Homo sapiens: one gene and its partners. The protein of the gene in region 2 purifies or fractionates together with the protein of the main gene of each other region. This does not show direct contact. Each region holds a gene or a part of one and is shown on either strand. Other genes may lie near its edges.

Evidence for each region. The genes of interacting proteins can lie anywhere in the genome.
Region 1: the proteins of ASB14 (region 2) and VRK2 purify together in Homo sapiens (affinity purification with mass spectrometry; one large-scale study listed by BioGRID and IntAct). This does not show direct contact.
Region 3: the proteins of ASB14 (region 2) and FRMD5 purify together in Homo sapiens (affinity purification with mass spectrometry; one large-scale study listed by BioGRID and IntAct). This does not show direct contact.
Region 4: the proteins of ASB14 (region 2) and DNAJC11 purify together in Homo sapiens (affinity purification with mass spectrometry; one large-scale study listed by BioGRID and IntAct). This does not show direct contact.

The regions. Positions count from the first base shown.
Region 1 is NC_000002.12:58,088,306-58,091,805, forward strand, and holds part of VRK2 (serine/threonine-protein kinase VRK2), read left to right. Parts: intron 1-35; coding exon 36-141; intron 142-1,325; coding exon 1,326-1,418; intron 1,419-3,500. UniProt on the Homo sapiens protein: Serine/threonine kinase that regulates several signal transduction pathways.
Region 2 is NC_000003.12:57,289,886-57,294,094, reverse strand, and holds the start of ASB14 (ankyrin repeat and SOCS box protein 14), read left to right. Parts: upstream 1-1,409; 5' UTR 1,410-1,462; intron 1,463-1,987; exon of another isoform or gene 1,988-1,990; 5' UTR 1,991-2,061; coding exon 2,062-2,183; intron 2,184-4,209. Other genes in the region: DNAH12 (dynein axonemal heavy chain 12), read left to right, coding at 124-314. UniProt on the Homo sapiens protein: May be a substrate-recognition component of a SCF-like ECS (Elongin-Cullin-SOCS-box protein) E3 ubiquitin-protein ligase complex which mediates the ubiquitination and subsequent proteasomal degradation of target proteins.
Region 3 is NC_000015.10:43,884,272-43,887,771, forward strand, and holds part of FRMD5 (FERM domain-containing protein 5), read right to left. Parts: intron 1,485-3,500; coding exon 1,410-1,484; exon of another isoform or gene 1,397-1,409; intron 525-1,396; coding exon 456-524; intron 1-455. UniProt on the Homo sapiens protein: May be involved in regulation of cell migration. May regulate cell-matrix interactions via its interaction with ITGB5 and modifying ITGB5 cytoplasmic tail interactions such as with FERMT2 and TLN1.
Region 4 is NC_000001.11:6,639,317-6,642,816, forward strand, and holds part of DNAJC11 (dnaJ homolog subfamily C member 11), read right to left. Parts: intron 742-3,500; coding exon 586-741; intron 1-585.

The sequences.
Region 1 (3,500 bases), on a different chromosome or scaffold from region 2:
CAGGATGATCTCTTTTTGATGCTTTTTTCTTACAGTTACAGATTTATGGTAATGGAAAGACTAGGAATAGATTTACAGAAGATCTCAGGCCAGAATGGTACCTTTAAAAAGTCAACTGTCCTGCAATTAGGTATCCGAATGGTAAGAATTACTTATTTCGCATGCTCCATTTCCAAATTGTTTACTTCTTGCAATATAGAAATCTTTTCCCTTTGTGGAATTATTAGAGAATGAAGGATTATTGCCCTAGAGACATCAGTTATTAGGAGTAGAGGCTATTTTGGTGAAATTGATAACAATGGGCTCTGTAAGTGACAGAATGTGCTGTGTATGGCACTGCAAACTCAATTAGGCTTTGGTTCTCCAGTCTGATCTTCTTTTTCCTTAGAGCTTTGTTTTACATACCAGAACAAGCTTTCATTGCTGTAAGAATAACCTTTCTTTTGTCAGTTATAACAATGCAAATTATGGCAAAATATATTGTCAGACATTTTAAACATGTGATGGTAGGGGGGTGCTATGAAGTTTTTATTATGAGTTTGGGATGGTGGCAATAATTAGTTGTGACAATGAATAAAATATACTTTGCCAAAGCAGAAGCAACGAACTCTTAATAGCACTCAGGCACACATTTGTTTATACTACATATTTGTCTTATATGTTTGTATTTGGTTTGTTTAAGTCTCATTTTTTCACTTTTGAGTAGCATGAAGCTGCTTATGCCAGATTGGAATGCAGCAAATAGAATGCATTAATTTTCTCATTTATCCATCCTCGAAGCCAGCAAATGTTTATTGAGTACTAAGTGTATGTAACATGCAAGGCTGAAGGGCTTTAGAGATGAAGCTAAGGAGTTTTCTATTACCATACAGAGGAAGAATACCTTTCCCTTTGCTCATGGACATGGCATTTTGTTCTGAGATTCTCAAGGCTTGATTTATAATTATTGCTTAGGTGAGGAATTGCTGAGTGGGCTTCAAGATTATTTCACCATAGATCTCTGATTTTATGCTATGTTTTTCCTCTTTGTGCAGTGCGGTTTGGCTACTGGGCTATCAGGAATTAGGCATAAGCATTTTTGAATCTTGATTTTCTTCCTTTGGAACTTCAACTAAAATACTTGATTTTTGAGGATCATTTTACTTTTTTCTAGGATGAGCAACCAGAAGATGTGATATTTTAGAATAATTAACCAGTAATTGTGAAATACATCGCTTTGTCAATGTTAATATGAAAAAACCCATGTTATTCTATATTCAAAATGTTGAAATTGATCATGAGTTCTAAATAGCAGTAAACCTTATTTTATCTATTTATTTTCACAGTTGGATGTACTGGAATATATACATGAAAATGAATATGTTCATGGTGATATAAAAGCAGCAAATCTACTTTTGGGTTACAAAAATCCAGACCAGGTAAATACATACTTTTGCTTTTAATAAAGGTCTTTAATGTATGAAACTGAAACATTCAGAAAACAAACTTCTAACCCAGAAGAGTTTACAAATGAGGGCGTAACATGATGAATGTTGTAATTTATCTTACCTGCTTATCTAATTTAATCTTTGTACCAAACTAATGAGTAATTAGGATGAGAAACTGAGAGTCAGAGGGGTTAAATAATATGTTAATGGGCACACAGTTAAGAAGTGGCTGAGCAGGAATTTGAATTTCTGAGCAAATATAGATAAGCAAAGAACCATCAAAATCCAGTGGGAGTAGAGATGGATTTATGTAGAGGTTAAAACACTGTCATATTAGTTCATCATTTCCTACTGTATAACCAATTAAGTTTTAAGCAGAGAGGCCGGGCGCGGTGGCTCATGCCTGTAATCCCAGCACTTTGAGAGGCCGAGGTGAGTGGATCACCTGAGGACAGGAGTTTGAGACCAGCCTGGCCAACATGGTGAAACCCTGTCTCTACTAAAAATACAAAAATTAGCTGGGTGTGGTGGTGGGTGCCTGTAATCCCAGCTACTCAGGAGGCTGAGGCAGGAGAATTGCTTGAACCCAGGAGGCGGATGTTGCAGTGAGCTGAGATGGTGCCATTGCACTCCATCCAGCCTGGGCAACAAGAGAGAAACTCCATCTCAAAAAAAAAAAAAAAAAAAAAGTTTTAAGCAAGCTTTTCCATTAAAATTTTGTGTAATGATGAAAATATTCTGTTTGACTGTCCAATATGGTAGCCATTAGCAGTATGTGGCTAAGTACTTAAAACGTGGTCAGTACAGTACCAACTGCTGATGAGTATTTGGAGTAACAGGAACTCTCATTTGTTGCTCATGGAAATTTGTTGCTAATGGAAATGCAAAATGATACAGCCACTTTGGAAGACAGTTGGGCAGTTACTTAGAAAGCTAGACACTCTTAACATACCAAGCAGCAGTTGTGCTCATTAGTATTTACCCAAATGAGTTGAAAACTTACATCCACACAAAAACCTGCACGTGAATGCTTGTAGTCGGTTTATTCATACTCGTCAAAACATTGAAGTAACCAAGATGTCTTTGAGTAGGTGAATGGATAAACTGATACATCCAGATAATGGAATATTATTCATTGCTAAATAGAAATGAACTTTTCAGCCATGAAAAAACATGGAAGAAACCTAAATGTATTTTACTATGTAAAAGAAGCCAATCTGAAAAGGCTAGTTACTATACAATTTCAACTATATGACATTCTGGAAAAGGCAAAACTATAGAGACAGTAAAAAGATCAATTTTTTACTATCTCCATAGGTTAGAAGGGAGAGGAAGGATGAATGAGTGAAGCACAGTGGATTTTTAGGTCAGTGAAACTATTCTGCATGATACCATAATGGTGAATACATGTCATCATTTGGTTGTTAAGATCCATAGAATGGACAAGACCAAGAGTGAACATAATGTAAACTGTGGCTTTTGGATGATAAGGATTGTCATTCTTGGTTCATTCACTATAAAAAATGTGCTACTCTAGTGAGGGATGTTGATAGCGGAGAGACTTTGTGTGGGCTTGAGGTATATGGGAACTCACTGTATTTTCCACTCAGTTTTACCTACATTGCTCTAAATTTACCTAAATCAAACCTAAAACTTCTCTAAAAAATATAGTCTGTTTAAAAAATGTAGATTATATTTTTAATATTAAAATATTAATATTGACAAACTGAATTTTTAATTTAACTTAATTTAAACTTAAATAACAATATACCTAGTTGTTACTGTATTATCACGTTTAAAGAGTTAAATGATTGAGTCTATAAAAAATTAGAAAAAATGTAATTGAATATTTGATCTCTGCATTGGTTAAATTTCTTAATAAAAATTTTTTCAAAATGAAAGGTGAATGAGAAACTGGGAAATAGATAGATAACAAATATTTGAGAATATCTAGCCGGTACTAAAAAAAAAATTAAGAAAAACACTAAATACCTTGTTAAAGCGATGATCGAAAAGAATGAATAAACAGAACAGAGAAGGAATATGACTGTCCTAGAAACAGGAAAAAAGGCT
Region 2 (4,209 bases):
ATATATCACAATTATGATCTTAGATTTAGTTCTGGCCATTTTATTACAAGATAAATAGTTCTTTTCGTACCAATGGCTGTTTTTCCCTTTATCAAGTGAATATATTTCTTTTTTTTTTTCAAGCTCAAAAATCTCGGATTATAAAGTCGGATGCCTATGTCTGTCCCCTCTACAAGACAAGTGAACGTAAAGGAACTCTTTCCACTACGGGACATTCTACTAACTTTGTCATTGCAATGTTGTTAAAAACAGACCAACCTACTCGGCACTGGATCAAGCGCGGGGTTGCTTTGCTTTGTCAGTTGGATGACTAAATTGGACAAATTTATAAAACATCCAAAAGTTTAAAAAAAAAAAAACCTGTCCTACTTAAAATATATACATTATAAAACCAAGTGTTTTGGTGTTATTCTTTTAAATGATCTTTGCAAACACTCATTGCATTGTTCTCCTTTCTGAGGAGAACTTTTTGAAGTTTGATTGTATGTGAAAAATAGATTTGGGGGTTAAACGGTAACATTTAACAAATATCAGGAATTATCTCCTTCACAAATGTTAAGTCATTCCTTCAGCTTCAGTATAGTTTACTTTCCACTCTCCTACCTAAAGTAATTATACATAAATATTTCAAATACATAAATTAAGAAATTATAAATATGGAAAATATTAAAAGTTACCCAACTATACCTCTTTATTTCTTACCTCTAAGACATCGGTTCCATTTCTCACTGCATCCTTGTGACTAGGAAAGGAAACTCAAAGCTGCGAAGTTGGCCTGCAAAGGCAGTAGGATGGCTTGAGGGCAGTCCGAACTTCTACACCTGCAGTGACAGTGTGCTTCTCGGCATTTGCTTCATATTTAATTTGAAATGTCAAGTGGTCCCTTTGCTTTTTTTAGTGTATATTAACAATTTAAAAATATTTCAACAAAACAGAATTTTGATCAAAATTTTATCTTGTGTAGAGTGAATTCTTCCCTTAGGATTCCAAGGACACTGAAGGCCACAGTTCTGTAACCCAAGGAAAATGTAGTCACAGCTACCTAGTGAATCTAGTACATTGGGACAGTCACTTTGGATAATTGGGTCAGAGCAAAATGTTTGGGTTCTCTTAAGTGAAAAATTGATTGTGGTTTGCAGTGGCTATGTGCATGAATTCTCTTTGCATGGCCAACCCCCTGCAAAAGCATTTTATTCCAGGAATAAAATATTTAATCCTTTAAATTTGATGAATGTAGCACTGAAGAAAAGAGATCATGTTTCCAAAAAGAGCTAAACCACATGTAAAAAACAAGGAGAATGTGCCAAACTGTCTTATGATGAAGTATTTATAGTAAAGCTATTAATGGAATGGTCACTACAGGGGAGAGGAGAGCCTAAATATAAATGAAAATTCTGAGGCTTACATGTGTTAGTCCTTAACAGTGAAAACTTCACTGCTGTCCTAGAGGATAAAACAAAAGGTAAAAAGTCTTTGAAATGTGACCAAATGTATTCTATGCTAAAACTGACATTTTTCTTTTAAAACCATTTAGATATTGCCTAGTAAGATACATTTGTTTTTACTACTGCTGTATCCATGTTGTAATTATGAGAATACATTTGTTCCTATAACATGTTTATTTTTAATGTATATTAAGTAAAATATTATTTTCAGCATCACACTGTGTGTAGGAAAGATATTATTTTGGATGAGTGCTACAATCACTGTGAAAGACTCACAGCCAAGTTGAACAGATCAGAGTGTTGTCAGTGTTAGAGTGGCACTAACCGAAGTCTTATTTGAAAGGTGGTTTTTCCTGAATAAGCTTTAAGTCAATGGCTACTCATGGAAACTTCTAATTTTTGTTGAATCTGTGGCAGTCCACAAAACTTTTTTAAGTTTATAGAAATTTTTTAGTGAATATTTTGTTTCCTAAATTTTGTATATTTTTCATTGTTAATCCTACCAATTTTCTAGATTTCTGAATTTCATTTGTAATTTTAAGCAGTTGATCTCTTCACAACTGGAAAAATACTTTTAATTCACTCTGACTTTAAAGTAAACCTGTCCACGTTTCACATGGATAATTACACCAGCGATGAAGACATAGATGAAGACTTTGACACCCAGCTCATCATTCAACAGAGTTTGCAGGATATTTATAAGCCAGGAACAGCACAACATGCACCTAAGGATGAGAGGTAATGGTTTTCTCATCGGCAATATAGTATTAAGTGTTGTATTCAACAGCTGACACTTGTCATTAGCTTAACTCTAGTGTTGTGACAAAAACAGGAGGGTCAGAATCCAAGGAGCTGTCAATTAAATATCTGTAAGATATTATGCCTAACTAGACAGGAATAATCTGGAAATAATTCAGAATTTAATTAGGCAATAAAAATATCTGAAGGAGGTTAGCAGCAAATCTGGGTGAGGTGATACAGACTGGAAATCAGAAGAAAGAAAGGAGGATATGAAGGGCTAGAGAAAAACTAATACATCTTGTCTTTGGGAATTGAAGAAATGCATAAATCCAACCGGGACACATAGAAAGTTAGTTATCTTCAACCTTAGTAGGGTAGGTGGGGATGGGGTCCAGTCTTTGATCTACTCAAATCAAAAGGAGGAATTACATAAACTTGAACAAGGCTTCTGAAAGTGTAGATTCAGAGTTTTGTTGGACAACACTGAAAAAGGACCAGTGGGACCCTGTGTGGGGTGTAAGAAGAATCGTCCTGGATATGGCACACCTGCTCACACGCTCGCTGGCCAATCAGCAACCTTGGTCTCCTGAGGCAGTAACCATCATTTTTTCAGGGGTGATAACCCAGTTTACTTGGGATGGTAATCTCTATTTGCCTGCTGGATGTAAAACTAGAAAAATGTCTTTTAACCCCAAGAGATTTCATAACTAAATAGAGACAATGAAGTACATCAAACCTATATAGTATTTTTAAAATGTAACAAACCATGGAGTGATCACTATGTGTCATGTTATTTTAAGCACTTCATAAATACTAACTTTTAAATTCTAATTCTCATTACCTCTCTATGAGGTAGGTCCTATTATTATCCCTACTTAGAGAGGAGGAAAGTGAGGCACAGAAAAGTTAAGTGGCTTACCCAAGGTCACAGAACTAGTAAGTGAAGAGCAAGGCAGTCTGATTCTAAAGTCTGTGCTCTTAGCCACACACTATTCCTATACTTTTGTGTTCAATTTAGGATTAGTTTTTAAAATAATCTTTAAATATTTAAAGTTTTGTAAAGAAATTAGCCTTATTAGATTATCTGTTATATTAACCTTATGATTAAAACCTTAAATTGCATAATTGAGTAACTGACTTTGAACTTACAATTTTAGGTTGAAAGGTATAAGAGAGTTGGGCTAAGGAGAGTATTGAAATGTTTCAGAGAAACTGAAATTGACTGTGGTTATGCATTTACTTGATTAGATTTGCAGGAAGTGTATGATACTTAGGCAGGCTTGCTGATTTAGTCAGGTACTTGAAGGAATTAGAAAACTAGAACATACTTGTGACATGTGGAGTAATGGTCCCATCCAAAGATGTCCTAATTTCTGGAACCTTACATGGCAAAGGAGAAGTAAGGCTACAGATGGAATTATGGCTGCTAATCAGCTGACTTTTAGATAGGGGGTGTACTCTGGATTACCCAGGTGGTCCCAGTGTAACACAGGATCTTTAAGTGTGAAAGAGGGGGAGCCAGGAGAGACAACTTGGGAGATGGCAGTGTTAAAAGGACTAAGCCCAACAATGCTGGCTTTGAAGATGGAGGCAGAGAGTCCACCAGCCAAGAAATGTGGGTGGCTTCTAGAAGCTAGAAAAGGCAGAGATAGAGTCTCCCCAAGAGCCTCCAGAAGGAACAGAGCCCTGCTGACATCTTGATTTCAGTCCGGTGAGGACTGTTTTGGATTTCTGAACTACTAAACTGTAAGATAATAAATTTGTTTTATTATTGTTGTTTTAAGCCACTAAGTGTGTGGTTACTTCTTACAGCAGCTATAGAAAACTAACACAATACTAAATCTATGAATGCAGGTTTAAATGTTTAAGATAATGTAATTGACCAAATTGTAAACAGGACAGAGTGTCCGAGGGAATTTATTCTCCTCAACCTGGGTTCGTTAAATAATTAGAGTGGAAGGTGGCCGGGTGTGGTGGCTCATGCCTGTAATCCCCGCACTTTGGGAGGCCGAGGCGAGCAGAT
Region 3 (3,500 bases), on a different chromosome or scaffold from region 2:
TATTCTTTCTGGGTCTTAGATTCTAGGAGATAGGCTTCTGGAAACACAATTTGTGGATCTACATGAAGCATGGATCCTGAAATTATTTTAGAGCCAGTGTGGCAGGGCTGTGGGACTATCCTTGGCTTCATATGATCGACTGGTTCCAGAACCACTGAAATTGTGTGACACATCTATGATCAGTGTCAAGACTAGGGAGGGCAGAAGAGAATTGCCAAGTGAAGTGGCACCTGGATCTGATGTACTATCTGCAGTAGCCCTTCCTCCCTCCCCAGCTCTCTTATTAAGGGTCAAAGACTTCTCCCCATCCCTCTGAGAAGTTTCTTCAGCCTTCTGCTCCATTTTGGACTTTTTGGTAGCCACTGGAGCCAGGGGCTTCACAGTACTCAAACTGCTGGATTGAGATTCTGGGATCTGAGCTACAACTGTTTGGGGGGAAGCCCCTGGCAGCCTACCTGTGTATTTCCGGTGGCTCCCGTTTGATCTTAGCACTTGATTCCATGACTTCCTTTGCAACTCGGCCACTGTAAGTAGTGTAATAAAAACAAGCAGCAAGAAATGAGACTGTGTTGTAGGACAGCTCCTCTCCAAGATCTTAGGTGCTTTCCCTGAATCAGGAAATGGCATCTGTGGCCCACCCTTTCCCTGATGTTTTGGTCATGGAGAAAGGCTTGCTTGGTGGGGTAGACTTCTAAACTGTCATGACAGCCTATCTGAGAGAACTCTCTCCATCTCTAGAGTCTTTAGGATCTTCCATTCTCATTTAGGAGTAATTCCTCATTTTCCAGCATGTTCCAATTACATCACAAAAAAACACATAAGAACAACCTTTAGACAGTGAGACATGAATCACTGTTATAGTTCTTATTTTGCTATTGTAAGGGAAAGAGAAGATACATATTTATTTTTCATTTTCTTGGAGACAGGGTCTTGCTCTGTCTCCTGGGCTGGAGTGCAGTGGTGCAATCATGGCTCACTGCAGCCTCGACCTCCTGAGCTTAAGCAATTCTCCCACCTCAGCCTCCCAAGTAGCTGGGACTACAGGTGTGTGCCACCACACCCAGATAATTTTTTTTGTATTTTTAGTAGAGATGGGGTTTCATCATGTTGCCCAGGCTGATTTCAAACTCCTGGCCTCAAGTGATCCACCTGCCTCAGCCTCCCAGAGTGCTGGGATTATAGGCATGAGCCACTATGGCCGGCCAATATACATTTAAAACCCTACAGACAAATTGCTGTAGGGAAGGAAGGAAATAGTAAAAGGGTCATAAGATGGGAGAATTAGATGGAGACCTCAGACTTTTCTGAGTCCTCCCTGGTTTCTCTGTTCTAAAGGATAAGGACCACTGAGTTCTCCAGAGAAGGGTCTGAAAATAGATCCATAATGGTTACTTACTGTCACTATTTACCTGTATCGGAACCGGCTCCCTTTAAAGAATAAATTGCTGCTGGACACTGTGCGGACTTGGCTTGACTTCTCCAGCCTGTAGCAAGGCAAAGTCCAGTGTGATAGACAGCCTGAACTGCCTCACACAGGTTAAGGCAGCACATCCCCAGCTTCTTCCAAAGGCTACTTGAAACTTCAGGAAAAAAGCCCTTCATAGTCCACATTTGTCTCTGACTCTCATTTAGGATCTGGGGGCTGTGCTCACAGCCAGCTGCTCTCCTGCCTCAGTGCCCAGGACTGTCAACATGGAAACCCATTTTAGTGTCAGGAGAGTGAAGGCTCCCCCAAAATGCTTCATAGGTTTTACCAGGGGGACTGAGAGAATACATGCTCGGGTGGATGGTCTTGGGGAATAATAGAATGCCCATCTAATCTCAGCCACGTCACTTATTAGCAGTGTGACCTCGGGCAAATTTCCTTCTCTCTTAGCCTCACCCTTTTTATAAAATGATAGAGCTGGGACTACTGGACCTTAGGGGTCTCCTTTCCAGTCCCAGTATTTGATTTTGTGTCTATGTCTGGGTAATTGTGGGTGGAGAAGAGGGTGGGGGCTGTCTTTCCTGTTCCATCTCCCTTTTGGAGGGTCCTAAAATACATGACCACAGTAAAGACAGAAATCCTGCGATGAAGAAACTAGCTTAACTTTAATAAAAGTCCGTCATGTATTTGAATTTGGAGCCTTTCTCCCTCCCCCAGGATATCTATTTTATATCTCGTTTGAAGCTGCAGACAGCCGATGTGGAGCTCTGTAATACTTTCTCCTGGGTGACTTCACTGAGCCCATTAGCTCTCTCAGCTTGGGCACAGCAGCTCAGAGAGAAGCCTCCTAAGATGGGATCCACCTGTAACATGCCCAGGTGCCTATGGTACTGATCCAACCAGTAACCTATGTGAGTCTGAAACCTGTGCTATGAGCAGTGAGTAGGAGCTGTTTCCACAATCCATGAACAGTTCTTGGGAGACACCATCCCTGCCCGTCTCAGGGCTCCAGGACATCCGAGCTGCTTACTGGAGCCTGGGCATGTTCTTGCATCTGACTGGGCTCCTGCCATGGCACTAGGCCAAAGGCAGGACTAGGGATCTGTATGTGAGAGACACTGAGGGCAAGGCCAAAGCGCTGCTGCCAGAGACTTGACATACCTGGGGATCTCACCCAGGCTTTTACCGTTTGATGAGAACATTAAGGAGGCAATGGAAAACTGAAAAATGACCTCCATTTCCAGTGTGGGTGCAGGCAGGGCTGGGTGGGTAGGGAGATCTACTCGTGGGAAGACTCAGAAACTGAGTGAGGTCACAGGTTCAGAAGCAACACTTCTGTTTCCGTGACACAGATGGGAAAACCAAGCCCTTAAGAAATGCTGCTGAAGGCATGAAAAGACAAGAGGCAAGGAGATTGCTTCTGTTTGCTTCTTCTCTACCCTTTGGTAGAGAGAAAGGGAAAGCTTCCACATATGCCATTCCCAGGGCAGGGATAGTTCAGTGTGGAGCAGGCCCCTGTCGGCTAGTGCCTTCCTCTCTCTGCTGCGGAGACCCGTGGGACCCCAGTTCTTGGGCTGCTCCTCAGTCCCACAGGCAGGAGCTTGCATCTCAAGTTGCTTCTCTCTAGGTTCAGGTAACTGGCCAAACCTGGATTACATCCTCACAGGCAAAGGGAGGGTGGTAGCAAAAGAAAATAAATGTTTTCTTGACTTTCTATGGACAGTAGGGACTGAACAGGAGGGAAGTGTGACCATGCCAAAGTCTCCCGAGTATATTCAGGAGAAGAAAGGCTGCCGATTCAGTGAATCCTTGGTTCTGGTATAAACACATAATGGGAATTAAGTAATTCAGAATGCCTGTCTAAGAAACAGCTTCTGGGGCTGTGGCCCTGGCAACTGGGAGGACCCAGTTCTGCCAGCCAGCATCCCATAGCAGCCAGCAGGCAGCAGAATCTTCCCTGGAGAGAAGTATGGTGCCACTCATCCCAGAGCAGTTCTCATCTCTCCAGGATCCTTCAGGTTACTGGAACTGGGACCTGGCCAATCAGGGGCATTTGGTGAGAGCAGGGCTCACC
Region 4 (3,500 bases), on a different chromosome or scaffold from region 2:
GAGGATCAACACTTTTTTTTTTTTTTTTTTTGAGACCGAGTCTTGCTCTGTCACCCAGGCTGGAGTGCAATGGCGCAATCTAGGCTCACTGCAACATCCACCTCCCAGGTTCAAGCAATTCTCCTGTCTCAGCCTCCCAGGTAGCTGGGATTACAGGCACGTGCCACCACGCCCGGCTAATTTTTCTATTTTTTTAGTAGAGACAGGGTTTCACCATGTTGGCCAGACTGGTCCTGAACGCCTCACCTCGGGTAATCCACCTGCCTCAGCCTTCCAAAGTGCTGGGAATACAGGCGTGAGCCACCACGCCCAGCCGAGGCCCAACACTTCTATAAACTCCAGTCCTTTCTGAGAGTAAGATTTACAAACGAAGAGATAACAGCAGTCCAACTACGGACAATGAGGAGAAATAGTTAACATTTACCAATCGTGACCCAGACATCAGCCTAAGTGCTTTACATGCATTACTTAATTCAGGTTTCCTCATCACCCGACGCAGGAGGCTCTGTTATCCTCTCCATTTTAAGGGTGAGGAAACTGAGGCACAGGGCTGGCTAGTGACATGCCCATGACGTGTCAACTCACTTCTCTTTCTGAGCCCTGAGGTATGGTTTGATGATCAGACGGTGCATGGCAAAGTAGACCACTAGAGGCCCCACGGTGGCATAGAACATGGCGCTGGGCAGAAGCTGGTCCGTCAAGTGAATAGGGAAGAAGTATGTCTGACTGGCCCTGTTGAGCCTGGGGAAAAATACAAAAAAAAAAAAAAAAAAGCCAAGATGAATCAGGTTTTCCAGGGAAGGGCAATGGGGTGTCAGGCACAGGAAGAGAACTTGTGCTGCGTGCAGCTGCGAGTTAAAGGAGCCTGCAGTCTGCTCCTTTCACAGTCCACCACCTTCTGGCCTCCCGTTCCAAAGTCTGGCTGATGGATCTGACACTGTGACAGAAGAAAGATCCCAGTGTCTGCTGACCTCAAGCCAAAGCAACAAGAGGAACACTTCACGGGGTCAACGTCCCCTACAGGTGCATTCAGTCATAGGCTGGAGAGGACAGGAATGGGCTCCTCCAGATGTCACTGGAGAGTCACATCTCAGTTCTTAACTGAGGTTTCCAAAGAAGTTAGTGAAGACTTCAAAAGTTAGTCAGTTAAGGAGGTTCTGCTTCCAGTGGTGGCTGAGTAAAGTAGCTCCTATTGGACCAATGTGTAAACTCTGGACCACATATAAAAAATTTGGCCAGGCGTGGTGGCTCACGCCTGTAATCCCAGTACTTTGGGAGGCTGAGGTGGGCGAATCACCTGAGGTCAGGAATTTGAGACCAGCCTGGCCAACATGGTGAAACTTCATCTCTACCAAAAATACAAAAATTAGCCGGGCGTGGTGGTACCTGTCTGTAGTCCCAGCTACTCGGGAGGCTGAGTGAGGCGGGAGAACGCTTCAACCCAGGAGGCAGATTGTACCACAGCACTCCAGCCTGGTCAACAAGAGGAAAAGGACTGAGGATGCATGGACAGAATCTCAGAAACCCGTGGAAGAGTGTTAAGTTTAATATATTGGTAATTAGAGCCCCAGTGAGGAAAAGGAAATTTACAGATGCAAGAAGTTTAGGAAACCCCAAGCATCATAAATACAACAACAGCCTTATCTATGTACATCACAAACTGCTGAAAAGCCAGAAAAAGAAAACATGCTGAGTAGCCACTGACAATACCTGATCACACTCTTCCAGAATAAAAGCTCTTCCAGAATAAAAGCAATTCCAGAATTGATAAAGAACACTCAAAACTTGGCCAGGCTCAGTGGCTCACGCCTGTAATCCTAGCATTTTGGGAGGCTGAGGCAGGAGGATCGCTTGAGGTCAGGAGTTTGAGACCAGCCTGGCCAACATGGTGAAACCCTGTCTCTACTTAAAATACAAAAATTAGCTGGGTGTGGTGGTGGGCGCCTGTAATCCCAGCTACTCAGGAGGCTGAGGTAGGAGAATTGCTTGAACCTGGGAGGTGGAGGTTGCAGTGAGCCAAATGCACTCCAGTCTGGGGTGCAAGAGCGAAACTCCGTCTCCAAAAAAAAAAAAAATATATATATATATATACACACACACACACACACACACACACAAACAGAGACAGGTTAAATGTGAATGGGTAAAAAAAATAAATAGTAAGCATAAGAAGACTAAAAAAGCTATATAGTAACAGATAAGGTAGACTTCAAGACAAAAATTTTTTTTTTTTTTTGAAGTGACAGGGTCTCACTCTGTCATCTAGGCTGAGGGGCACAATCACAGCTCACTACCACCTTGAGCTCCTGGGCTCAAGTGATCTTCCTGTCTTGGCCTCCCAAAGTGTGCGCGCCACTGTACTGAGCCTTCAAATATTATCTGAGGAGAGATGGCTGACGCCAGCTCTAATCTAGGTAAGTGATTTGGCTTTGTTTCCAAAACTGAGCTGTGATCCACTTTGATTCACTCACTGAGTTCCTCTCAAGTACCACGATGGGTTTTAGGTTCTAGAAGTGCGGGTGAGAATAAAATGGACCAAGTCCAAGAGCTTATGTCTGATGAGGAGTGCAGGAGATGGCCCTTCAGATGGAGACTGGCTCGTTGGAGATTGAACATGGCAAACATGGTGGGGGGGATCACCTGGGGCAAGGGGAAGGGCTACTATGTTATACAAGGTGAATTAGGGGACATTTGAGCAGACAGCAGATACTTACAGGGAGTGAAGGAAATGGCCACGTATTTATCTGCAGACTGAGAAATAGCAAAGGCCACCTCATAAGCAGGAGGGGGCCTGGTGTGTGCCAGGAATAGCTCCAGGGGGTCAGGATGGCTGGGGTTGGGGTAGAGAGGAGTACTACATCACGGAGGGCATTGTAGGCTCCAAAGTCTCTGAAGGGCTTTGGCCTCCGACTGGAATTGAGGGAACCTCTGAGGTTTTAGGCAGAAGACAGACGTGAACTGCCTTCAATTTTAAAAAGGACTCTCCTACGGAAAGCAGACACACAAGGAGGGAGACAGGTTCCGTGGGGAGGGTGCTGTGTAACTAAGACAAAGATGCTGGCCGCAGTGAGGTTGAGAAATGGCGAGACTGGGGATACAATTTTGGAGTACATGTTCAGGAGATGATTTTGAGATATGTATGATTTGGAGTGTGGGAGAGAAAGAGATCGAGGCTGACTCCAAGGTTTTTGGACAGAGCAAGTAGAAGGCCAGAGCTCTCATTTACTGAGATAGGAAAGGAGGCTGGGCGCTGTGGCTCACACCTGTAATCCTAACACTTTAGGAGGCCGAAGCGGGAGAACTACTTGAAGCCAGGAGTTCAAAACCAACCTGGGCAACCAAGTGAGACCCTGTCTCTATAAAAATAAAATAAAAAAAGAGAGAGAGATGGGAAAGACTTCGGGCAGAGCAGGTTCTGAAGGTTCTTCGTTTCTGGGGGCACAGGGAGGGATCGAGTTCTGTTTGGATACGTGACATCTGAGATGCTGTTAGGTATCCAA